Homo sapiens: one gene and its partners. The protein of the gene in region 1 binds, or shares a complex with, the protein of each later gene. Each region holds a gene or a part of one and is shown in the gene's direction. Other genes may lie near its edges. The genes, in order: MED19, MED25, MED16 and CCNC.

What was found.
Region 2: MED19 (region 1) and MED25 share a complex: the UniProt entries of both Homo sapiens proteins name them as parts of the mediator complex.
Region 3: MED19 (region 1) and MED16 share a complex: the UniProt entries of both Homo sapiens proteins name them as parts of the mediator complex.
Region 4: MED19 (region 1) and CCNC share a complex: the UniProt entries of both Homo sapiens proteins name them as parts of the mediator complex.

What each region holds. Positions count from the first base shown.
Region 1 is NC_000011.10:57,709,181-57,717,050, reverse strand, and holds the start of MED19 (mediator of RNA polymerase II transcription subunit 19), read left to right. Parts: upstream 1-4,835; 5' UTR 4,836-4,871; coding exon 4,872-5,088; intron 5,089-7,870. Other genes in the region: TMX2 (thioredoxin-related transmembrane protein 2), read right to left, coding at 4,244-4,432. UniProt on the Homo sapiens protein: Component of the Mediator complex, a coactivator involved in the regulated transcription of nearly all RNA polymerase II-dependent genes.
Region 2 is NC_000019.10:49,821,286-49,828,320, forward strand, and holds part of MED25 (mediator of RNA polymerase II transcription subunit 25), read left to right. Parts: intron 1-7,035. UniProt on the Homo sapiens protein: Component of the Mediator complex, a coactivator involved in the regulated transcription of nearly all RNA polymerase II-dependent genes.
Region 3 is NC_000019.10:869,166-876,200, reverse strand, and holds part of MED16 (mediator of RNA polymerase II transcription subunit 16), read left to right. Parts: intron 1-746; coding exon 747-957; intron 958-2,618; coding exon 2,619-2,752; intron 2,753-4,082; coding exon 4,083-4,275; intron 4,276-4,947; coding exon 4,948-5,164; intron 5,165-7,035. UniProt on the Homo sapiens protein: Component of the Mediator complex, a coactivator involved in the regulated transcription of nearly all RNA polymerase II-dependent genes.
Region 4 is NC_000006.12:99,541,863-99,544,671, reverse strand, and holds the end of CCNC (cyclin-C), read left to right. Parts: intron 1-398; coding exon of another isoform or gene 399-450; exon of another isoform or gene 451-892; intron 893-1,062; coding exon 1,063-1,117; 3' UTR 1,118-2,285; downstream 2,286-2,809. UniProt on the Homo sapiens protein: Component of the Mediator complex, a coactivator involved in regulated gene transcription of nearly all RNA polymerase II-dependent genes.

The sequences.
Region 1 (7,870 bases):
GGAGCGCCTCTGCCCGGCCGCGACCCCGTCTGGGAGGTGAGGAGTGTCTCTGCCCAGCCGCCCCGTCTGAGAAGTGAGGAGACCCTCCGCCCAGCATCCGCCCCATCTGAGAAGTGAGGAGCCCCTCTGCCCGGCACCAACCCCGTCTGGGAAATGAGGAGCGTCTCCGCCCGGCAGCCGCCCCGTCCAGGAGGGAGGTGGGGGGGGTCAGCCCCCCGCCCGGCCAGCCGCCCCGTCCGGGAGGTGAGGGGCGCCTCTGCCCAGCCGCCCCTACTGGGAAGTGAGGAGCCCCTCTGCCTGGCCAGCCACCCCGTCCGGGAGGGAGGTGGGGGAGTCAGCCCCCCACCCGGCCTGCCGCCCCGTCCGGGAGGGAGGTGGGGGGGTCAGCCCCCCGCTCGGCCAGCCGCCCCGTCCGGGAGGGAGGTGGGGGGGTCAGCCCCCCACCCGGCCAGCCGCCCCGTCCGGGAGGGAGGTGGGGTCAGCCCCCCGCCCGGCCAGCCGCCCCGTCCGGGAGGTGAGGGGCGCCTCTGCCCGGCCGCCCCTACTGGGAAGTGAGGAGCCCCTCAGCCCGGCCAGCCGCCCCGTCCGGGAGGGAGGTGGGGGGGTCAGCCCCCCGCCCGGCCAGCCGCCCCGTCCGGGAGGGAGGTGGGGGGGTCAGCCCCTCGCCCGGCCAGCCGCCCCGTCCGGGAGGGAGGTGTGGGGGTCAGCCCCCCGCCCGGCCAGCCGCCCCGTCCGGGAGGGAGGTGGGGGGGTCAGCCCCACATCCGGGAGGGAGGTGGGGGGGGGTCAGCCCCCCGCCCGGCCATCCGCCCCGTCCAGGAGGGAGGTGGGAGGGTCAGCCCCCCGCCCGGCCAGCCGCCCGGTCCGGGAGGTGAGGGGCGCCTCTGCCCGGCCACCCCTACTAGGAAGTGAGGAGCCCCTCTGCCCAGCCACCACCCCGTCTGGGAGGTGTACCCAACAGCTCATTGAGAACGGGCCGGGATGACAATGGCGGTTTTGTGGAATAGAAAGGGGGGAAAGGTGGGGAAAAGATTGAAAAATCGGATGGTTGCCGTGTCTGTGTAGAAAGAAGTAGACACGGGAAACTTTTCATTTTGTTCTGTACTAAGATAAATTCTTCTGCCTTGGGATCCTGTTGATCGGTGACCTTACCCCCAACCCTGTGCTCTCTGAAACATGTGCTGTGTCCACTCAGGGTTAAATGGATTAAGGGCGGTGCAAGATGTGCTTTGTTAAACAGATGCTTGAAGGCAGCATGCTCGTTAAGAATCATCACCACTCCCTAATCTCAAGTACCCAGGGACACAAACACTGCGGAAGGCGGCAGGGTCCTCTGCCTAGGAAAACCAGAGACCTTTGTTCACTTGTTTATCTGCCAACCTTCCCTCCACTATTGTCCTATGACCCTGCCAAGTCCCCCTCTGCGAGAAACACCCAAGAATGATCAATAAAAGAAAAAAAAAAGAAAACAAATTCTAAGAGGTTATAAAAGGTTTATGGAAATTTTATCTTGTCTAGTCAAAGCTGATCAAGATTAGACAGATTTGTTTGTAAAGTTTATTAAAATCAGCTTTAGTATTAAAAGCACATTAATACATATATATTATATATAAAATATATTTTTTTAATTTTATTTATTTATTTATTTTGAGACAGAACTTTGCTCTTGTTGCCCAGGCTGGAGTGCAATGGCACGATCCTGGCTCACTGCAACCTCTGCCTCTCAGGTTCAAGTGATTCTCCTGCCTTAGCCTCCAGAGTAGCTGGGATTACAGGCACCCACCACCACACCCAGCTAATTTTTTGTATTTTTAGTAGAGACGGGGTTACACCATGTTGGCCAGGCTGGTCTCGAACTCCTGAGCTCAGGAAATCCACCCGCCTCAGCCTCCCAAAGTGCTGGGATTACAGATGTGAGCCACCATGCCTGGCCAAGTGTCTTATTTTCAAGGAGGATCATGGAAAGCATGGGAAGAATGCTGACAAATAAAGGTTTCTGATAACTTTGAAACTGTATCACCGGACTGGGTAAAAATTTCCAAAGTCTAATGAAAATAAAACTGGACTCATAAAATTGCTAACCTCCAGACTAATGTTTTCCATTTTTCACCCACTCTTCTGACTTAGAATCACTAAAAATTAAAACGGCCTTTTTTAGCTTGGCGCAGTGGCTCACACCTGTAAATCCCAGCTCCTTAGGAAGCCAAGTCAGGAGGATCCCTTGAGCTCAGGAGTTCAAGACCAGCCTGGGCAACATCAAGAGACCCCACCTTGAAAAAAAATTTTTAAAAATTAGCCAGGTGTGTAGTGCATGCCTTTGGTTCCAGCTACCTGGAAAGCTGAGGTGGCAGGATGGCTTTGCCCAGGAGGTTAAGACTACAGTGAGCCATGATCACATCACTGCACTCCAGCTTGGATGACAGAGCAAGACCTTGTCTCAAAAAAAAATCCAAAAAACTAAAAACCCTGCCTTTTTCCTAAGGCCTTACCAGCTAAAGCTAGTCAACGTGACTTTGAAAAAAAAATCACCACAAAAGCTTATATTTGGACAAACTTTACACACAACCTACAATCTAGGAAAATAGATTGCTATTAATCTTCCCAATTGACTGCCCTCCAGACTCTAAAGAAACTAGTTTATAGACTATACCAGATATTAAGCTTTGTTTGTCTTGTTCCATAGAAATGTCTCTCTTATTAAATACCTGTTTGCCTACATCATATACAGAGGCCTAGCTTTGAGAACTCATCTACAATGCCATCTTCTGAAATGAGACACAACAATTTAATTGAACTGGACTATCCCCCAAAATGAGAGGCTGGTTTAATGGGATCCTTTGCCGCTCAATTACTAGCCCGATTTCTCTCTCCACAGACACCAACTCAGCTTATAGTGAAACTTCTAAGGAAGTTTCAGACAAAGGAAATAAAGAAGACCAGGGACTCACACCCCAAAATATGGCATCCTGTATGCTAATCATTTTAAATTAAAGGTCCCTGGAAACCAGCAGATACTGGAAGCAGCTTTACTCTGATAACTACCTTATCTGCCTAAAGTCCAGACCTGTCAAAGAAGACAACAATTACTTCTGGTCTCTTCCCTGAGTTTTCATTAACTTACTTCAGTACAAGAAGAAAGATGGAAGCCTGTCAACACACCTGGACAGATTTTTGTCAGAAACCATTGTCTGCTCTGCAGGCCCAACAGTCATTGTCCCAGGCCACTGTATGTTCTCCAGGCCACTGAATCACCCTAAAAATCATTTACGATCCACCTTAAAATCACCCACATTTTCCCATCTCCCATATTCCTATGAAAGAGGGTATATAAGCATCTGTACCCCACTGGGTCATTCTCCTGCAATTCCCTCATGCTATGCACGTTAAAATAAAATTTCTATGCCTTTCTCCTATTAATGTGCCCTTTGTCGGTTGATTTTTCAACAAACCCTCAGAGAGCAAAGGGGAAGCTTTTCCTTGGCCCCTACATGCTATATGGCAGAAGGGAAAGTGCTTTAAGTTTATGTTCCGAGCAGTCCCTCCACCCATACCAAGGAAGCACAGCAAGGAGCTTGGGACACTTCCCAAAGAAATCCCAAAGATTTCTTTACAACGTATTTTTTACAATTCCTTTACAGTAGCCCCCAAATTTTATCCACTTTCGCATCTTCAGGATCAAGCAGAGTGCCTAGAGTGTACACTCTAGAAATGTTTATTGAATTAAGAAGCGGCTGACAGTGTTGTGCAGGTAGTGTGGCCAGAAGAGTAGTTTCAAGTCCCAGGCACTCATTAGTTGTATGACCTGGGGCAAGTCACCTAAATATACCGAGATCCATTTCTTCACCAATGAAACAGGAATATTACTACTTGCCTTGTCTACCTTACTGGCTCCTCAGGAGGCTTTACATAATGAGCGGCACTGTAAAACGTTATACACGTGTATGTACAGTTTTGATAGGGCTGTTAATTAGTCTCAATGGTGAAACAGAAAGAAACCTGGACTCAACAGTCAAAAGCTGTTGGGCCGTTGTGCATGGGCTACGACTAACATGTTCCGTTTTCCCATCTTAAACACAAAGTTTAGACTCGATGATGGTTCGGACCCTGCACTTAATAGTCTCTAAGTCCGCTACAGGCTCGGAACCTCAGGTGTCCTCAGAGAGGTAAACCCCAGGGTTCCCAGATACACCTGCAAGGGCAGGGACAGTCAAGGTCGCGGGGTACTAACACGCGGGAGGCTCACCCAGTCAAAGTCACACGGGTTACCGTCTTCGCGTTGGGTGGGCAGACCGTGGCAGAGCGGCGGCAGTTTCCTCACGAGTAGGAAGGCAGCAGAGAGCAGGGCCGACAGAAGGTAGTAAGGTTGGGCGAGCCATCGTGAAAGTCGCGGCACCGAATACACGAGAGCAATTAGAGGTGCCAAGACCGCCATCTTTTCGGCCGTAACGGCCACTGCTCGCCGGCGTCGTAGGTCTCGCCCCGCCTCCCCCACCATAACGACTGCTATTGGGCTATATCGCAAACGTACGGCCTCTAAACCCGGATGTAGTTCTCTGAACGCTGTGGTAGGTCAGAACCCAAAAAAGAACTTAATATTTTATTGGTTAGTCTAGTTGTCGCTTTATCCGCCTAAGTCATTTTATTGGACTGTAGCAAGCAGAGCTAGCAGAAGACTCTAATAAGGTTAAATAGCACTTCCTGAACGTTCTCATAAGGCGACGGAAGTAGTTGTTGAAAAAAGGTAGGCGGTGCCTGAGGCATCCAATGACAAGCGGCTCCTTGAGAAAGGGCGGGGGGGTACTCCTTGAAAGCATTGTCCAATGAAAATTACCAACGGCAGACACGGAGACAGCGCCGGGGCGGAGGGTACGATGGAGAATTTCACGGCACTGTTTGGGGCTCAGGCTGACCCACCACCGCCCCCAACCGCACTCGGCTTCGGACCAGGAAAGCCTCCACCCCCGCCACCGCCTCCTGCGGGCGGGGGACCCGGCACGGCCCCGCCTCCCACCGCGGCCACGGCTCCTCCTGGCGCGGACAAGTCAGGAGCTGGCTGTGGCCCTTTTTACCTCATGAGGGAACTGCCAGGTGAGTACTCGGCCTTGCCAAAGCCAGCCAATCAAATCTTAGAGAGGAGGTGATGGGCGTGGCTCTCAGCCGGCTAGCGGAGGTGCGAGGTAACCTAGGCAACGCATACCCGGACTGTGGAGCCCTAAGTCGGAAGCGCTGTTAGGATTCACAAGCAGAGGGATGACTTGAATTCAACCAGGATGAGTTGAATTCAACCAAAGGGATGAATGGCGGGCAGGGGCGTAGTGCATCTCCGTTACTGTCTTTTGCACCATGTCCAGGCTGTGTCCCTGACACTGGTTTATGTCTCTCTAAAAAATGACCTAGGGCTGGGCGCGGTGGCTCACGCCTGTAATCCCAACACTCTGGGAGGCGGAGGCGGGCGAATCACCTAAGGTCAGGAGTTCGAGACCGGCCTGGCCAACATGATGAAACCCTGTCTCCACAAAAAACACAAAAATTACCTGGGCGTGGTGGCGTATACCTTTAATTCCAGCTACTCGGGAGGCTGAGGCGGGAGAATCGTTTGAACCCCGGGAGGCGGAGGTTGCAGAGAGCCGACATTGCTCCACTGCACTCCAGCCTGGGCGAACGAGACTCCGTCTCAAAACAAACAAAATCCAGGGTTTGAGTTTGGAACTCGAGAGGCCTGATTTAATATCTTTGGGGACCCAAAGTTTTAGTTACAGGTCTCCCACAGACTTGCTATTGGTTTGGGGCAAGTTGCCATTCTTCCTTCTAAGGTTCCGGCATTTCCTGGTCTGATCAAAAAAGGGATAAGAATCGAACCAAACTCTTCATTCAAAAAATTATTTTGTTGAGTACCTATGTACCAAGCACTTTTCTAAATGCTGGAGACAGTTGTGAACAAGACTGACAAGATGCTTGCCTTTTTTGGGATGTACATTTCAGTGGAGGAGGCATTGTAAACAAGATAATGTCAGAAAGTGGTTAATGCTAGGAAAAGAAAACATGATAAAAATTGAAGGTGGCCAGGCGCGTTGCTCACGCCTGTAATCCCAGCGCTTTGGGAGGCCGAGGCAGAATCCCTTGAGCCCAGGAGTTTGAGACCAGCATGGGCAACATGGCGAGACCCAGTCTCTACAAAATATACAAGATTAACCGGGCGTGGTAATGCATGCCTGTAGCCCCAGCTACTCAGGAGGCTAAGGGAGGAGAATCGCTTGAACACAGGAGGTCGAGGCTGCAGTGAACCAAGATTGTGCCACTGCACTCCAGCCTGGGCAACAGATGAGACCCTGTCTCTTAAAAAAAAAAAATTGAGGGGCAGAACTACTTTAGCTAGAGTGGCCAGAGATGCTCTCTTCACATAGCTAACATTTGAACTAAAATGTAAGCATAGACAAAGGGCCAGCCATGTATGGACAGGAGGGAGAGACAATTGTAGATACAAGAAATGAGGTCAGAAACCCTGATGTGAGAAAAAGCTTAGAATATCTGAGGGACAGAAAATCAGTTGGACTCCAGTGAAGTGAACAAAAGGAAAGAGTGTTAGGGAGAGAGATGAAGCTGGGAGAGTTAGGCAGAGGCTTTTATAAAGCAGTAAAGGCATTTAGATTGTAAATACAAAAGGAAGCCATTTAAAAAATTTTTTTATAGACACAAGGTCTCACTGTGTCACCCAGGCTGGACTGCAGTGGTATAATCATAGCTCACTGTAACCTCCAGTTCCTAGGCTCATGCTGTCGTCCCACCTCAGCCTTCCAAGTAGCTAGGACTACAGGCATGCACCACCACAGTTGGCTAACTTAAAATTTTTTTGTAGAGACTGGGTCTTACTGTGTTGCGCAAGCTGGTCTTGAACTCCTGGCCAACAGCAGTCCTCCCGCCTTGGCCTCCCAAAGTGCTAGGATTATAGGTCTGAGCCACTGTGCCCAGCCAAGGAAAGCCATTTTAACATAGGAAGTTGGTCAAATGCACTTGTTTATAATCATTTAAGCAGCCACATGACAAATAGAAAGTGGGGAAATTAGTCAGAAGTTACTGCTCAGTAGTCCAGGAAAGATAATGGTTTGAACCAGAGCATAGCAGGGCATAGAGAAGTAAATGGATACAGGATGTTAGAGGTAGAGCTGACAGGGTTGAAAAATTGAATACAGGGCCAGGCGCTGTGGCTCACGCCAGTAATCCCAGCACTTTGGGAGGCTGAGGTGGGAGGATTGCTTGAGCCCAAAAGTTTGAGACCAGCCTGGGCAACATAATGAGACCCCATCTCTACAAAAAATAAAAATAAATTAGCTAGGGATAGCAGCATGCACCTGTAGTCTCAGCTACCTAGGAAGATGAGGTGGTAGAAATCACTTGAGCCCAGGAAGTTGAGGCTGCAGTGAGCCATGATTGTGCCACTGCACTCCAGCTTGGATGATAGAGGAAGACCCTGTCTCAATTAAAAATATATATTGTATATAGAAGTGAAGGAAATAGAGGAATTGATGCCTTTTTAAGTTTTCGGCTTGAATAATTGGGTGTATGGGTACGGAGACTTGGAAGATGAGGAAGGAACAAGTTTGAAGAGGTGGAAATCAAGAGTTATTTTGGACATGTTTGGTCTCCAAGATGCCTCTTTTTTTTTTTTTTTTAAACAGAGTTTTGCTCTTGTTGCCCAGGCTGGAGTGCAATGGCACAATCTCAGCTCACCACAACCTCCGCCTCCCAGGTTCAAGCGATTCTCCTGCCTCAGCCTCCCGAGTAGTTCGGATTACAGGCATGTGCCACCACACCCAGCTAATTTTTTATTTTTAGTGGAGACAGGGTTTCTCCCTGTTGGTCAGGCAGATCT
Region 2 (7,035 bases), on another chromosome or scaffold:
CCTCTCTTGTTTTTGAGGAAGGGTCTCACTCTGTCACGCAGGCTGGAGTGCAGTGGCTCAGTCACGGCTCACTGCAGCCTCGACCTCCTGGGCTCAAGCTCAAGCGATCCTCCCATCTCAGCTTCCCGAGTAGCTGGAGTAGCAGGGACGGTAGCCAAATGCCAGCACACCTGGCTGATTTCTTAAAAATATTTTTGTAGGTCGGGCGTGGTGGCTCACGCCTGTAATCCCAGCACTTTGGGAGGCTGGGGCAGGTGGATCACCTGAGGTCAGGAGTTCGAGACCAGCCTGTCCAACATGGTGAAACCCTGCCTCTACTAAAAATACAAGCAATCATCCTGCCTTGACCTCCCTAAGTGCTGGAGTGCTGAAATTACAGGCCTTAGCTGGGCATGGTGGCGCATGCCTGTAATCCCAGCTCTTGGGAGGCTGAGGCAGGAGAATTGCTTGAACCTGGGAGGTGGAGGTTGCAGTGAGCCGAGATCACACCATTGCACTCCAGCCTGGGCAACAAGAGTGAAATTCTGTCTCAAAAAAAAAAAAAAAAAAAAATTTTGTAGTGGCGGGGCACGGTGGCTCATCCCTGTAATCCCAGCACTTTGGGAGGCCAAGGCGGGCGAATCACCTGAGGTCAGGAGTTCGAGACCAGCCTGGCCAACATGGTGAAACCCCGTCTCTACAAAAAATACAAAAATTGGGCAGGCGTGGTGGCTCACGCCTGTAATCCCAGCACTTTGGGAGGCTGAGGCGGGTGGATGATGAGGTCAGGAGATGGAGACCATCCTGGCTAACACGGTGAAACCCCGTCTCTACTAAAAATACAAAAATTTAACCGGGCGCGGTGGCAGGCACCTGCAGTCCCAGCTACTCGGGAGGCTGAGGCAGGAGAATGGCGTGAACCCAGGAGGCGGAGTTTGCAGTGAGCCAAGATTGCACCACTGCACTCCAGCCTGGGCAACAGAGCAAGACTCTGTCTCAAAAAAAAAAAAAAAAAAAAAACCATACAAAAATTAATCAGGTGTGGTGGCATGTGCCTTGTAATCCTAGCTACTCAGGAGGCTGAGGCAGGAGAATCACTTCAAGCCAGGAGGTGGAGAGATCGCACCACTGCGCTCCAGCTTGGGTGACTGACTGACTGAGACCCTGTCTCAAAAAAAAATTGTTTTTTTTGTGGAGACAAGGTCCTGCAATGTTGCCCAGGCTGGTTTTGAACTCCTGGTCTCAAGTGATCCTCCACTTCAGTGTCCCTAAGTGCTGGGATTAGAGGCATGAGATGCTGCACCCAGAGGCCCCACTAGGCTCTTTGTAATCAAGTCTTGGAAGTTACACGTCATGTCATTATTTCTGTTACATTCTTTTTTTTTTTTTTTTTTTTTTTTTGAGACAGAGTCTCGCTCTGTTGTCCAGGCTGAAGTGCAGTGGTGCGATCTCAGCTCACTGCAAGCTCCGCCTCCCGAGTTCACGCCATTCTCCTGCCTCAGCCTCCTGAGTAGCTGGGACTACAGGTGCCCGCCACCACACCCAGCTAATTTTTTGTATTTTTAGTAGAGACAGGGTTTCACTGTGTTAGCCGGGATGGTCTCGGTCTCCTGACCTTGTGATCCACCCGCCTCGGCCTCCCAAAGTGCTGGGATTACAGGCGTGAGCCACCGCGCCTGGCCTACATTCTGTTTTTTAACCTGAGACAGGGTCTTGCTCTGTTGCCCAGATTGGAGTGCAGTGGTGGGATCATAGCTTGCTGCAGCCTCGACCTCTCGGGCTCAAGTGATCCTCCCACCTCAGCCTCCTGAGTACCTAGGACTGCAGGTGGGCACCACCATGCATGGCTGATTTCTTTATTTTAATTCTTGTAGAGATGAGGTCTTGCTGTGTTGCTCAGACTGGTCTTGAACTCCTGGCCTCAAGCGATCCTCCTGCCTTGACCTCCCTAAGTGCTGGAGTGCTGAGATCACAGGCCTGAGCTGCGGTGCCAAGTCCACTTCTGCCATACTGCATTTGGTGTGCAGTATAAGCCTATCCCGTTCAGTGTAGGAGGAGACTACCCAGTGTGTAAATAGCAAGAGGCTGGATTGCTGGGTGCTGTATTGGGGGCTGGGTACCGCAACCTCACAGCGATGTTTGGAGAATTAAGTTAGTTGATGATGTTTAATACAGTGCCTGGCATGTATTAAGTGCCGTGTAAGTGTTTCCTAGGATTTTGTGCCTCACTCTCCTGGTTTGCAAATGGATAATGGTCGCGTGTATCTCCGTGTTGTTAGAAGATCACAGGAGCTAAGTTGCTTGCTGTGTGTCGCTTAGGGCCTGGTCTGCAGTCAAGGTTCATTAAACAACACCTGTTCGTAGCGGCCGTTACCTCTGTATGCTTCTGCAGCAGGTGTTTGTTGAGTATCTGCTTTGTTCCAGTATGTGCGTGCAAGTGCTGGGTGCAGGACATATAGTGAAAAGGTGACACAGAAGCTTCCCCTTCGCGGTAGCTGGAATTCGTAGGTAACACAGAGCAGGGTTTCTCATCCTTGGCCCTAGTGACACTGTGGACACAGTCATTCCTTGTAGTGGGGGCCGTCCTGGGTATTGTAGGATGTTTAACATCATCCTTGGCCTCTACTCACTAGATGCCGGTAGCCCCCTCCCAAAGGTGTGACAACCAAAAATGTCTCCAGGCATTATAAAATATCCTCTGGGAAGGGGGCGCAAAATGTATTCCATTTGAGACCACTGGGAGAGACCGGTAAGACAGTCTTGAGTGATGTTAAATGGAGACTTCTTGAGGCCCAGGTCCAAGTCTGATGCTCCTCAAGTGCCTGGCAGCCAGCACAGGGCCTGGTACACAGGAGGCCTCGGGTAAATTCTGTAGAATGAATGTCCAGAATGCATTTAATACTAACCACCCTGGAAGACACTGCATAGCCTTCCAGACCCAGCTCAGGTGTCTTATACCCTGGGAAACCTTCCCGATTCTTGCAGCCAGATGCTTCCTCCTCTGCCTCCATGACCTGTCACAGCCCCACACCTCTGGACTGTGAATGTCCAGGTCCCTGGGTGCTTCTGCCATTTGCTTCCAGCTGGGGCTTGGCACCCACGGGGCTTCAGGAGACTGGCTGAATAAATGAATTAGTATGTAATACAAAAACAACAAATAAATAGAAAAAATTAACCAGGCATGGTGGTGCACACCTGTAGTCCCAGCTACTCAGGAGGCTGAGGTAGGAGGATCAACTGAGACTGGGAGGCAGAGGTTGCAGTGAGCCGAGATTGTGCCACCGCACTCCAGCCTGGGTGAAAGAGCGAGACCCTGTCTCGGGAAAAAAAAAAAAAAAAAAGAGGTGGAAGGAAAATAGACCCAGTGTGTTTCCCATAACATTATGACAACTCAGTTGTTCATTCATATGTTCACTCATTAATTCAACAAATGTTTGTGGAACAAATCGTCCTGGGCACCAAGGAGTTAGTGGGCATGAGATAGGCAAGGTCCTGGCCCTCATGGAACTAGTTTGCCTGGGTGACAGGCCGTGTGTAGGGAGCCCTTGGTCATGGCCGGATGCTGTTAACATTCACTCATTTTGACCTCCTGGGGCTCCAGGCACCTGTTAGCCGATGAAAGCGGGCAGCAGAGACCCCGGGGAATGATACTGGGTAGAACAAATGGGAGTAAGTTAGAGGACTTGGGAACACCAAGTCAGAGCCCACTTGTGTCACCTAGGGGGCTTTTATTTTTATTTTGTGTCTGCCATATCAAGGGGTTTATTTGGAATTTATCATAAACTTGATATTTTAGCCATATTTTGCAGCCAGCCATAGTGCTTCTTCTGTTCAAGTTTTCCACATTTCTTTGACAAAATGTTTATTACATGTCGCCCTTTGAGCTTGTAGCACATGACTTGTACTTAGTGTTCAATAAGAGAAACGCAAGTTTTAGCATCTCAAACTGGTTAGTTTATCACACTTTTCCTCATAAGGGTTTTGTTTTGTTTTGTTTTGTTTGAGATGGAGTCTCTCTCTCTCTCCCAGGCTGGAGTGCAGTGGCATGATCTCAGCTCACTACAACCTCTGCCCCCGAGGTTCAAGTGATTCTCCTGCCTCAGCCTCCCGAGTAGCTGGGATTACACGTACCCACCACCATGTCTGGCTGGTTTTTGTATTTTTAGTAGAGATAGGGTTTCACTTTGGCCAGGTTGGTCTTGAACTCCTGACCTCAAGTGATCCGCCCACCTCGGCCTCCCAAAGTGCTGGGATTACAGGCATAAGCCATTGCACCCAGTCACTTCCAACTGTTTTACAGGGTCATGCCTGTAATTCCAGCACTTTGGGAGGGTGAGGAGGCGGATCACCTGAGGTCGGGAGTTCGAGACCAGCCCGACCAACATGGAGAAACCCTGTCTCTACTAAAAATACAAAATTAGCTGGGCGTGGTGCCGCATGCCTGTAATCCCAGCTACTCGGGAGGCTGAGGCAGGAGAATCACTTGAACCCAGAAGTCGAAGGTAGTGGTGAGCTGAGATCGTGCCATTGCACTCCAGCCTGGGCAACAAGAGCGAAACTCCATCTCAAAAAAAAAAATTTATCACCCCAAAGAGGACACCCCATATGCATGAAGCACTAGCTCCCCATTCCCCCATCCCCCCATCCCCAGCCAGGGTGGTTTTGGCTCGAGTCCCAGAAAGGCCCAGGAAAATATTGGCTTAATTTCACCTGTAGCAGAACAGCTGGGTCCAGAGTTGGTTCACCCCAACTCTTTGCACACAGTTGAAGTTTCTGCGTGCAAAGCTGTCTTGATGCCGGGCACAGTGGCTCACGCCTGTAATCCCAGCACTTTGGGAGGCCGAGGCGGGTGGATCATAAGGTCAGGAGTTCGAGACCATCCCGGATAACACCGTGAAACCCCGTCTCTACTTAAAAATTAAAAAAATTAGCCGGGCGTGGTGGCGGGCACCTGTGGTCCCAGCTACGAGGGAGGCTGAGGCAGGAGAATGGCGTGAATCCGGGAGGCGGAGCTTGCAGTGAGCGGAGATGTGCCTCTGCCCTCCAGCCTGGGAGACAGAGCGAGACTCCGTCTCAAAAACAAAAGCTGTTTTGATGGCTAGGAAGAGGAGGGCTGGGAAGTGTGTGGTGGGTTGGGAGCAGCGCCCGAGTGCCCTGAGAGCAGGAAGAAGGCTCAGGGGCTCAGTGTGCTCACTGGCCGGGCCGAGTGGGACTGGAAGGAAATCAGTGCGAGAACTCAGGCAGGAAGCGGAGAGCCCCGCTGCATGGCCCTGCCAGGCCACCAGTGCACTGAGTACTCAGCAGATGGTTCCTAGGCCTTGTGTGACCTAGGGTCAGACGCCTTGGTGTCTCTCTTGGAGGGCTGCACAGGGTGCGGAGAGAAGCTTGACAGCTGCAGTATCGGGTGATCTATGATGTGACTAAGGGCAGGCCGTAAAATTAGGTGGCATGTAGGGAAGGCTTCCTATAGGAGGGCACACCAGGATGGGTGTCGTAGTTTAGCTGGATTCCATCCGGGCCGGAATGGGTGTGTTCCAGCACATGCAGAGACCTGGATGTCTGGGCTTTGTCAGTTGAGAGGACCTATAGGTGCGGGCATGGAGCAGGAGAGATGGACGGGGTGCAGGACTCGGAGGCCTCGGATGCTGGGCCGATGCCGGGCCGAGGGCCTGGGTTGGTTCCAGTCTTGATGGACACGGTTGGGCCTGTAGACGTTCATTCACTTAGCCTACATTTCCTGAGGCCTCACATGTGCCCCGCTGTGGTGGGCAAGCCTGGGGGTAAGAGAGGACTCAGACCCCATCCCCGCCTGTGGGAGAGGTAGGATCAGAGACCACACTTCAGGGGGACAGGGCCCTCAAGACCCTCAGAGGGGTGCTCGGTCTCCACACACGTCCCCTGCAGCAAAGGTCAGCCTCTCACGACCACGTGACCGGAATAATGGTGGCAACCACAGCTGCCCTTGAGGAGAGGCCATCCCCGGGCCACAACCCATGTGGGACGGATGCTGCGACGCGACTGCAGATCAGGCGGAGGAGAAACGAGAGTCTGTGTGTGTTAGTTTCCCAGGCTGCCGTAGCAAAGTATGAGAAACTGGCCAGAAGAATGGAAATTGATGTCTCAGGGTTCTGGAGGCTGGAAGTCCAAAATCCAGGTGGTAGGGCCAGGCTGTCTCTGAAATCTTACAGGGGAAGGGCCCTTCTGCCTTTCCTGGTGCCTGCTGAGGCTGCATCACCCGTCCTCACATGGCCTCTCCCTGTGTCTCTCTGTGTCCTTGTGTCTTCCCTCTGTGTGTGTGTCCGTGTCCACGTTTCTCCTTTTCACAGACACCAGCCATAGTGGATTAGGGCCCGCAATTTAACTCGATTACCTGTGTAAAGATCTTTCCAAATTAGGTCACCTTCTGAGGTACTGGGGCTTAGGACCTCAACCTGTCTTTTTGAAGGGGGCACACTTGAACCCATAAGACTAGGAGGACAGAGGAGGCCCCCGTCTCTGGCTGGGAAGGTGAAGTGGGGCCAGGACTGATTTGGAGCAGACAGCCCAGAGAGGGGAGGGGACAGCAGGAGGCTGGGCATGGAGTCAGTCACTCCAGGGTTGGAGTCAGCACAGGATCCTAGGCTTGGGGTCCCCAGCCCTTTCCCATTCCCTCCCAGTCCTCATGATTAAAGACAACAAATGTCGGCCGGGTGTGGTGGCTCACTCCTGCAATCCCAGCACTTTGGGAGGCTGAGGCAAGTGGATCATGAGGTCAGGAGATGGAGACCATCCTGGCTAACATGGTGAAATCCCGTCTCTACTAAAAATACAAAAAATTAGCCAGGTGTGGTGGCAGGCACCTGTAGTCCCAGCTACTCGGGAGACTGAGGCAGGAGAATGGCATGAACCCAGGAAGCGGAGCTTGCAGTGAACTGAGATCATGCCACTGCATTCCAGCCTGGGCGACAGAGCGAGACTCCATCTCAAAAAAAAAAAAAAACACAGACAGCAAATGTCCCCTGTCCTGTCTGGGACTGGTGCTGTGCTAGCACCAGGGATTGGGTAGGGAACTCAGCA
Region 3 (7,035 bases), on another chromosome or scaffold:
AGCTTCACTTGTTTTCCTCTGTGCCATCAGAAACCAATACGAAGATAAAATGGGAAAAAAAAAATCCCATTCACGGCACAGCCTGCCGAGAAACGCGTGAGACCCAGGCGGGGGCTGCGAGGCTAAACCCCAGCGTGGCTGGGATCCGTAGCCAGTGACAGCGCTAGTGATGGCGAGACCTCGCCCTCTCCCTCCTTGGGCCGTCGCTGTGTGCCAAGCGTTTCATTTTTGTTTTTAGTTGTTTCTATTTTTTGTAGAGATGGGGTGTCCTACGTTGCACAGGCTCTCCAACTCCCAGCCTCCAGGAATCCTCCAGCCTCAGCCTCCCAAAATGCTTCAGCTCATTCATTCATTCTCTCTAGACCAGGGTCTCCCCGTAGGCACCACAGACATCGGGGGCTGGAGCAGCCTCTGGGATGGGGGTGTCCTGTTGAGCAGCCTCCCCAGCCTCCACCCGTTACTTGGCAGGGGCACCCCCAGTGGTGACAACTAAAAATATCTCCAGACATCACCAGGGGCCCCCACCAGAGGCAGAGCCGCTCCCAGCTGAGAACCCAGCACCTGGTCCTGTGCGCCTGGTCTTCCGCACCTGTTTTGCCATGAGGTTGCTGAGGTGCAGAGGCGAAGCAGCTTGCCCAGCTGACCGAGCGCCTGGTGTCAGAGTCGAACTGCTCTTCTCCTCAGCTGGAGCCTTGGCGGGCGCCTCTGCTCCGGCCCCTTGGGGTGACCTGGCTTCCTGCCCTCAGGTCCTCTCCACCCGGATCCTGGCCATGAAGGCCTCGCTCTGCAAGCTGTCGCCCTGCACGGTGACCCGCGTGTGCGACTACCACACCAAGCTCTTCCTCATCGCCATCAGCTCCACCCTGAAGTCGCTGCTGCGCCCCCACTTTCTCAACACGCCTGACAAGAGCCCCGGCGACCGGCTGACCGAGATCTGCACCAAGATCACCGACGTCGGTGGGTCCTTTTCCACGCCCGGGGCCTCGAGGTTTCTTTCATCTATTTATTTTATTTTTATTTATTTTTTTTACTCTTTTGAGATAGGGTCTTACTCTGTTGCCCAGGCTGGAGTGCAGTGGTGCGATCTCAGCTCACTGCAGCCTCCGCCTCTCTGGTTCAAGTGATTCTCCTGCCTCAGCCTCCCAAGTAGCTGGGATTACAGGCACGTGCCACCACGCCCGGCTGATTTTTTGTATTTTTAGTAGAGACGGGGTTTCACCATGTTGGCCAGGCTGGTCTCGAACTCTTGACCTCAAATGATCCGCCCGCCTCGGCCTCCTAAAGTGCTGGGATATAGCCTAAAGGCTGGGATTACACCACACCCAGGCTTTTAGAGACGGTCTCACTGTGTCATCCAGGTTGCAGCACGGTGACGCAGTCCCAGCTCAGCGCAGCCTCTGCCTTCTGGGCTCAAGCAATCTCGCCTCAGCCTCTGGAGTAGCTGGGATTACAGACACGTGCCACCACACCCGGTTTTTAATTTTTTGTAGCAACAGGGTCTCACTGTGTTGCCCAGGCTGGTCTTGACCACCTGAGCTCAAGCGATCCTTTCACCTCTCTCTACTCCTGGGGGCTGAGACGCTCCCAGGCCGACACCCGGCACCCGGGTCCTGTGCAGGCAGGTCTGCTCCTCCTTCCGTTTTGCCGTAAGGGGACTGAGGCAGAAAGGCTAAGCAGCTTGCCCAGGCTCACCCAGCACGTGGTGTCCTACTCGCCTCTGCCTCCCAAAGCGCTGGGATTACAGGCGTGAGCCACTGTGCCTGGCAGGCTGTTTCTTTTAAAAATTAGGGTTGCTGGGCGTGGCGACTCGTGTGTAATCCCAGCACTTTGGGAGGCCAACGCGGGCTGATCACGAGGTCAGGAGATCGAGATCATCCTGGCTAACACGGTGAAACCCCGTCTCTACTAAAAATACAAAAATCAGCCGGGCGTGGTGGCGGGCGCCTGTAGTCCCAGCTACTCGGGAGGCTGAGGCAGGAGAATGGCGTGAACCCGGGAGGCGGAGCTTGCAGTGAGCTGAGATCACCCCACTGCACTCCAGCCTGGGCGACAGAGTGAGACTCTGTCTCAAAAAAAAAATTTAGGGTTATCGTTTGTCTGGAGTACCCGGTTGAGTGTGGACACGTGGCACTCCTGGTAGCTGGGAGCCGTGTGCACAGTCATGGTTAGTTCTGTGGGACCACCCTAGTCACCATCCGAGAGGCATCTGTTGGGTGTGTAACCGCCGCCAGCTGCCAGCCGGGGGTGGCTGCAGCTGCACGCTGTGGACATGCCCCTGTGTTCACAGAGTTCACCTCGGAGCAGGGGGCAGATGTGCACCAGCAGGCCGGGCCTGAGCACTGGTGGCCCTGGCATGGGGACCTGCCCACGCCAAGGCCTGCAGGCCGAGAGAAGCTGGTTGGTGCTGAGCACAGCGGCCCCCGGGGGGGGGCAGGCAGTGGGCTCCCAGTTCCTCTCCGTCCGGCAACGCCATCGCCCCCTTCTCGTTCCCGGTGTGGGTCCCCTTGTGTCCTGGTACTGGGTGGGCACTCAGTGCAGGTCGAAGGACCGAGGGGTGCAGTTAGGTCACCCTGTGTGTACAAGAGGCCCGAGCTGACCCGACCCACGTCTCCTTGTAGACATTGACAAGGTCATGATCAACCTCAAGACGGAGGAATTTGTGCTGGACATGAACACACTGCAGGCGCTGCAGCAGCTCTTGCAGTGGGTGGGCGACTTCGTGCTGTACCTGCTGGCCAGCCTACCCAACCAGGTGCGCCATGCTCTCCCCTAAGGCCCCGCCCCCCACCTGGGCCCCCATCTCATCAGGACCCCGCTTCCCTGCCCCTGCCCCTCAAAACCACCTCAGCCCCGCCCCTAGTTGGAGTCCCGCCCCTACTTGGAGTCCCGCCCCTACTTGGAGTCCCGCCCCTGCTTGGAGTCCCACCTCAGCCCCGCCCCTGGTTGGAGTCCCACCCCTACTTGGAGTCCCACTTCCTGAGTCTGTCTCTTCTTAAACCCCCACTTCCTAGCCCTGCCCCACTTCCTAGCCCTGCCCCACTTCCTAGCCCTGCCCCACCTCGGAGCCCTGCCCCATCTCGGAGCCCTGCCCCACCTCGGAGCCCTCCCCCACCTCGGAGCCCTCCCCCACCTCGGAGCCCTGCCCCACCTCGGAGCCCTGCCCCACCTCGGAGCCCTGCCCCACCTCGGAGCCCTCCCCCACCTCGGAGCCCTCCCCCACCTCGGAGCCCTGCCCCACCTCGGAGCCCTCCCCCACCTCGGAGCCCTCCTCTCCATGAAGCCTCTGCTGTAAGAAGCCTTTCCTTGGCCACACCCTTCCTGCCCATTCTCAAAGCCCCGCCTCCCAGGCCCTGCTCCTTCTCAGCCCCACCCCTACACGAAGGCCGGTTCGCCTTGCTTCTGCTGCTGCTGCCCCCACCCCTTACCCTCCCCAGCTCCCTGCGCCTGGGGTGGGCGGCCTTGAAATCAAGTCTCCATCCACACCTCCACCTTCAGTTCTGCGGCTTGTGCGCCCCTGACCAGGGCTCCAACCTCGCCCCCACCCCCCCGCCGGTACACTCTGTCCTGCCCCAGCTGTGATTTCTTCTGCCCCACCCACCCGGCTTCATCCTGCCCTGGGGCCCGCCCTTCTCCACCGCGCCCATCACGGACGGTTTGAAGTCCCTCTCTTCTTTTTGTGGGGCTTTAGGCTGCCAGGGGCCACCCCTGGGGCCTCCCTTCCCTGGTCCTCTCAGCTCCCAGTACAGTCACCAGGGGCCCGGGCCCGCAGCTGTAGGAGGGGGCGGCTGCTCCTCCACGTGCAGGTGGGGATATTGGCCTCAGCCAGAGCCTCGTCTTAGTCTTGTGGACTCTCAGGGATGGGACGACTCTGCAAATGGGGCTGTCCTGGGCCCTGCAGGGCTCTGAGCAGCGTCCCCGGCATCCACCCACTCGGTGCCAGAAGCACCCCAGTCCTGACCACCACAAATGTCCCAGACCCTGCCCATTGCCCCCCGGTCGGGGTTCCACCGACCCCAAGACACTTCATCCCATCGCCATCTGCCCCCCGCCGCCCCAGCCACACCGATGCCTCTTTCGGGCAGGGTTCCCTGCTGAGGCCGGGCCACAGCTTTCTGCGGGACGGCACCTCGCTGGGCATGCTTCGGGAATTGATGGTGGTCATCCGCATCTGGGGCCTTCTGAAGCCCAGCTGCCTGCCCGTGTATACGGCCACCTCGGATACCCAGGACAGCATGTCCCTGCTCTTCCGCCTGCTCACCAAGCTCTGGATCTGCTGTGAGGCACCCCCGCCCGCCCCTCCCCTCTCCCCGCTCCCCGCTCTCCCCTCTCCCCGCTCCCCGCTCCCCGCTCTCCCCTCTCCCCGCTCTCCCCTCTCCCCGCTCTCCCCTCTCCCCGCTCTCCCTTCTCCCCGCTCTCCCCTCTCCCCTCTCCCCGCTCCCCTCTCCCTACCAAAACACAAGTCCTGCCTGAGCCCCCCGCCAGAACATAAGCCCCTGCAGGTGGCAGTGGCTCTGCCTTGATATCTGCTATTTCCCCAGTTCCTAGCACAGGTCCATGCTCTGTGTGGGTGCTTTTGGGATGGCAGCCACTTCCAGGCACCTGTTTGCTGTCTCTCCTTGTCGGGTTGTGTGTATGTGAGGAGGGTGAGCTGTGTCATTCTTACATCCCAGTGTCTGGAAAAGGCACAGTGCTTCCCACATACTTTTTAAGTGAATGAGGGAGTCTCATGACAGGCCAGAGACGGGGAGAGAACTCTGGGGTCACCCAGCCAGGCAGGCAGAGCCGGGGCCCCGACCTGGTGAGAGAACCCCGGGGTCACCCAGCCAGGCAGACAGAGCTGGGGCCCTGACCTGGTGCTCCTGAACTGGAGGGGCTCCCAGCACGTCCCGGGTGGCCGGGCGGTGCCCCAGTCAGGGGTGCTGAGACTTCCGCCACCTCTCTCCGCAGGTCGCGATGAGGGCCCAGCGAGCGAGCCGGACGAGGCGCTGGTGGATGAATGCTGCCTGCTGCCCAGCCAGCTGCTTATCCCCAGCCTGGACTGGCTGCCAGCCAGCGACGGCCTGGTTAGCCGCCTGCAGCCCAAGCAGCCCCTTCGTCTGCAGTTTGGCCGGGCGCCCACGCTGCCTGGCAGTGCTGCCACCCTGCAGCTCGACGGCCTCGCCAGGTGCGTGTGTCCCTGCATTGGTCCCCAAACACAGGACTCCTTCCTCCGTGTCCTGCCCCGGGACCCCCGAATCCACACGGCTCCCTCCCTGCATGTCCTGCCCCAGGTCCCCCCGAATCCACACGGCTCCCCGCCTCCATGTCCTGCCCGGGACCCCCCGAATCCACACGGCTCCCTCCCTCCATGTCCTGCCCCGGGACCCCCCGAATCCACACGGCTCCCTCCCTCCATGTCCTGCCCCGGGTCCCCCCGAATCCACACGGCTCCCTCCCTCCATGTCCTGCCCCAGGACCCCCCCGAATCCATACGGCTCCTTCCCTCCATGTTCTCCAGTCATGGCCATGACTGCTGCTTCCTTCTAGGTGCCCCTAACTCCATCCCCTAGTGGTGTCTTCTGCTGTGTCACGAACCACCCCCAACACGGGCACCCAGCCCTTCCATTCACCCTCTCCCTTTTTTTTTTTTTTTTTGTCTCCCCGACAGGGTCTCACTCTGTTGCCCAGGCTGGAGTGCAGTAGTGCCGTCTTGGCCCACTGCAACGTCTGCCTCTCGGGTTCAAATGATTCTCCTACCTCAGCCTTCCCAGTAGCTGGGATTACAGGCATGAGCCACCACACCTAGGTATTTTTTGTATTTTTGGTATAGAGGCGGTTTTGCAATGTTGGCCAGGCTGGTCTTGAACTCCTGACCTCAGGTGATCCACCTGCCTCGCCCTCCCAAAGTGCTGGGATTACAGGTGTGAGCCACCGCCCCGGCCTTGCCTTGGTGTTTCCTGATTGTGTGTTGGCCTCGCTGTACAGGGCGCCCTGCCTTAGCCTCTGCCCTTAGTCTCTGGCCCCCCTGGATGTCAGGCCTCGCCGTAGATCCCTCTGTGGATGGAGAGAGACGCCTTAGCATATGGCCCAGGGCCCTGCTGAGCAGACACCTCATCAGGAGGATCTCCCGGGGGCAAGAGGTCACCTTGCAGGGCCCGGGGCTGGCCTTTCTCTGGAATGTGCGGGGTTTGGGCAACCCAAGTGTGCTGAGCTGACCCTGGCTGCCCAGCAGCCCTGTGAGGTGGGACCTTGTCACCCCATTTCACGGTGAGGAAACCCAGCCTGGAAAGGGTGGGACCTTGTCACCCCACTCATCTGGGGTCACGCGGTCAGGAAGTGGCCGAGTCAGGATTTGAACCCAGGCCCGTCAGACCCCCAGCCTGTTTCAGACACACGTTTGACAAGGAGCACATGCAAACCCTCTGAGCCACTGATTGCTCAGGGCTGGAATTTTAGAAAACACAGATGAGCAAAAGGAAGAAAATGAAGTGAACCTCCAGCAGCCCTGCTCCGGGGAAGGCCCCGGCTCGGCTCCAGGACCTCCAGGGAAGGCACCCCCGGCTTGGCTCCGGGACCTCCGGGAAGGCGCCCTGGCTTGGCTCTAGGACCTCCAGCATTTTCTTCCTCGTGCTCACTGTGGGAGGGGCCTCCTAATGAGTCACACACGAGGGTTTGGGTTTCAGGAAAAGACTTGATGGAAAGAGAGGACGGTTACGTCAGAGGCTTGTAAACTGGGAAAATTTCAGATATTTAATGAGAGCAGAATAAGCCGGCCCACCCCCACCCAGACCCAGGTCCCCCACCCACCACCGAGGGCAGCTTTTGCCACCAGAATCTTGTCGTTCAGAGGTCCCGGCACCTCCAGGCCGGGTGTCTGGGCAGAGGTGGTGTGGAAGTCCCCATGTACCTGCTTCTGTCCAGCCTCAAATGGGAGCGTCACAAGCACCTTCCCTGCACCTCAGGCTCCCCGGGCACGTGGCGGACCGACCCTCGTCCCTGTGTGGGCCCCGTCCCCTTTACTGGGTCTCTAAGCCTCAAGCTCCCCAGGCACCTGGG
Region 4 (2,809 bases), on another chromosome or scaffold:
TAAAGATAAAGAATTTTGGTTTTTAAGTGACCCTAAGGTCCATGGCACATAAGAATATATTTTTGCTAAAAATGAATCACCTGTGCTAAGAGGGTTTTTTTTGTTGTTATTGGGGTGTATGTGTGTGTTTTAAGTAAGATGTGTTCATTTAGTTCAGTGGTTCTCAGCCCTCACTGTGTATCAGTTCATTTGGGGCAGGGAGAAAAAGTCAGAAGGGAAATAAAGAAATGCCATCCATCTTAATTGTTTCTTTAGAAAAATGATTGTTATATAACAAGATAGATTTATGGATTGCTACTCATAAGTTAATGTTACAATTTGGAAAAAGTTAATACTTTATTCAAGGAGCTGTTTAAGGCAGTCATTCAAACAGCTACCTTTGGATGCATTTTTTGCAGAAATTCCCTGAGTGATTCTCCACTAGTGGCAGGGCCTGAAGCTGCAAGATGATGGTGGACAAGATAAGGCAATAATCCTATTGCCAAAGTTACTGGTATTTTCAGTTTTAGTTATTTTTAAGTATTCAGCATTTTTATTTTAAGTATTCAGCATTTTCCAGGAAATTACCATATTTCTTGCTGACTTATAAAGGTTTGCTGTATTTATATATGATTTTATTATGCCTTTGGACAACAGTTTTGGTTTTTTTTTTTTTTTGAAGAACACTTCTTGTTTTTCATAAATAGTAGGAATAGGATTTTATATGTAAGATTTAATTTTATAGGAAATTTGTTTAGAAGAAGCTGTAATCTCTATGTTGAGTGATACCTGTAATAACAATGAAATCCCATACCCTAATTTAAAGTTTTTGAGTATATATGGACACTAACTTCCAGAATGCTTGTTATATGTGAGGGCACAAAGTTATATAAGAATAAAAACATAAAACCAATGTTTGTTAGTCTTCTGGATTTTAATTTTTCACGTGTCTTATAATGAGGAATGTCTTTGTTTTGTATAGTTGTGCCACAGAATAATGAATTTAAAAGTCAGTAGGCTTATCAGGGTGTAAAAATGGATCTTTTAATTGGTATAAAATCTCTTTCTTCCCCATTTGAACAGTGAAGGAGAGCAGGGTCCAAATGGAAGTCAGAACTCTAGCTACAGCCAATCTTAAAACATTCCGAAGAATTCCATAGTGGACCACTTGGAAATAAACCATTGGACAGATTTCAGTAATGTCTTCAGTGGAACACAAATGAAAATGAATAGCTTGTTTCTGTCAAGCATATTGGAAAGTGATTTTATTTTTGCAAAATAAGTTTTTCTTTAATATGATTCTAGTACATAATTGATTAAAATCTCTTGATTATAAATGTTTGGAAAGGTTCTAAGGGGACCTACAGACAGACATACATAGACATTTCAAAATTAATAGCTTTTGATTAGTATAATATTTCTTAATTTGGATAATAAAAATTGTAGCTTTTTATTAAGCCAGGAAACATGAAGCATAATTTGTTTAAAATTCTCTTTGGTCATTGAGGGACCAAAAAAGGACGTAAAATTTACAGTCAATCTATGAGGGTTTTTTTCCCTCCATAAGTTTAACTTTAAAACTGTATTTAAGGAATCAAATCTTACAAAATCCTGGAAGATTTTGGTAATGATGTTGATAATTTCAGGGAAATTAATCAAGTACCTATATTGATTTAAAAGTGTATTTTATTCAGTAGTTTGAGGATCTTGCCATGGAAGATACTAGCCCAGCCTAGCAGAAAAGTGCAATATGTATAGCATACTTTGACATTTTAAACATGATAGTCCATAACCATTTTGAAATGCTGGGCAAACTACATGAAGTTATTTATAATTAATTCACAGCTAATCAGGCATTTTGAAAGCTTAATTGGATTCAAAAACCATAATGTTGGAATTTGGTAAAATTTTAATGTTGATTTTTACTGTGAAAAGGTTTTTATAAGATATACACACCCTAGTTTAATGTTGTGTCTTGGTGTGGATTTACAGATTTACTACAGGTATTCTGAACCAGGAACACAATCAGGTTTCAGGCCAGTTTGATACTGGCTGTCCTTAATTCTAATATGAGAGTAGGACATCATACTAAATGTTATGTCAGTGGGACTGTACTGTCTGTGGAACTTAGCAAATTAATCATTTTCTTCAGACTTGAAGGAGAGTGATAAATAAAATTTGGAGTCATAGGATATTGATGCACAATTTAAGGATTAAACATTTTTAATCAATTGTGGATGATGGCTTATTAAATGTTGACTTCCTAGTATAAAACTGCAAGAATAAAAGTAACTTCTCCAGCTGTATCGACTAGTGTCTTGAATTTATCTTTTTGAATTTGCCTGATGTTGTTTTTTGAGAATTCTTCTTCCTTTAGTTAAGTGTTAAAGCCTTTTATAGGTTGTCAAGGGGGTAATTTCAAATCATTACAAACAGATTTTAAATAGAAAATTTATTTCTGATGGAGCGTATCAAATGAGCTGGAAAGCGAGACTGTGTAAAGTCAGACTGATGACATATATAGGTTTCCTGGGCTTAATAAGAAAAAAAGCTCTCCTCAGGTCTGAAGGAATTAATGTTGGGCTTAGGTAAGACCTATAGTCTTTAAGTGTTTATTTTTAAAATTAATACCATGCCTCATAGTTTTGTTTTCAGTCTCTTATTGTGGAAGATTTAAAACAACATATACAGGAGTAAAGTAAGGAACCTCCATGTACCTATCATCTAGCTTCAGTAGTTATCAATTTATGGCCAATTTCATTTCATCTAAACTCCCACCCACTTTCCGTAAGTTGCCATCCCCCATCTTATTTTGAAGCAAATCCTAGAT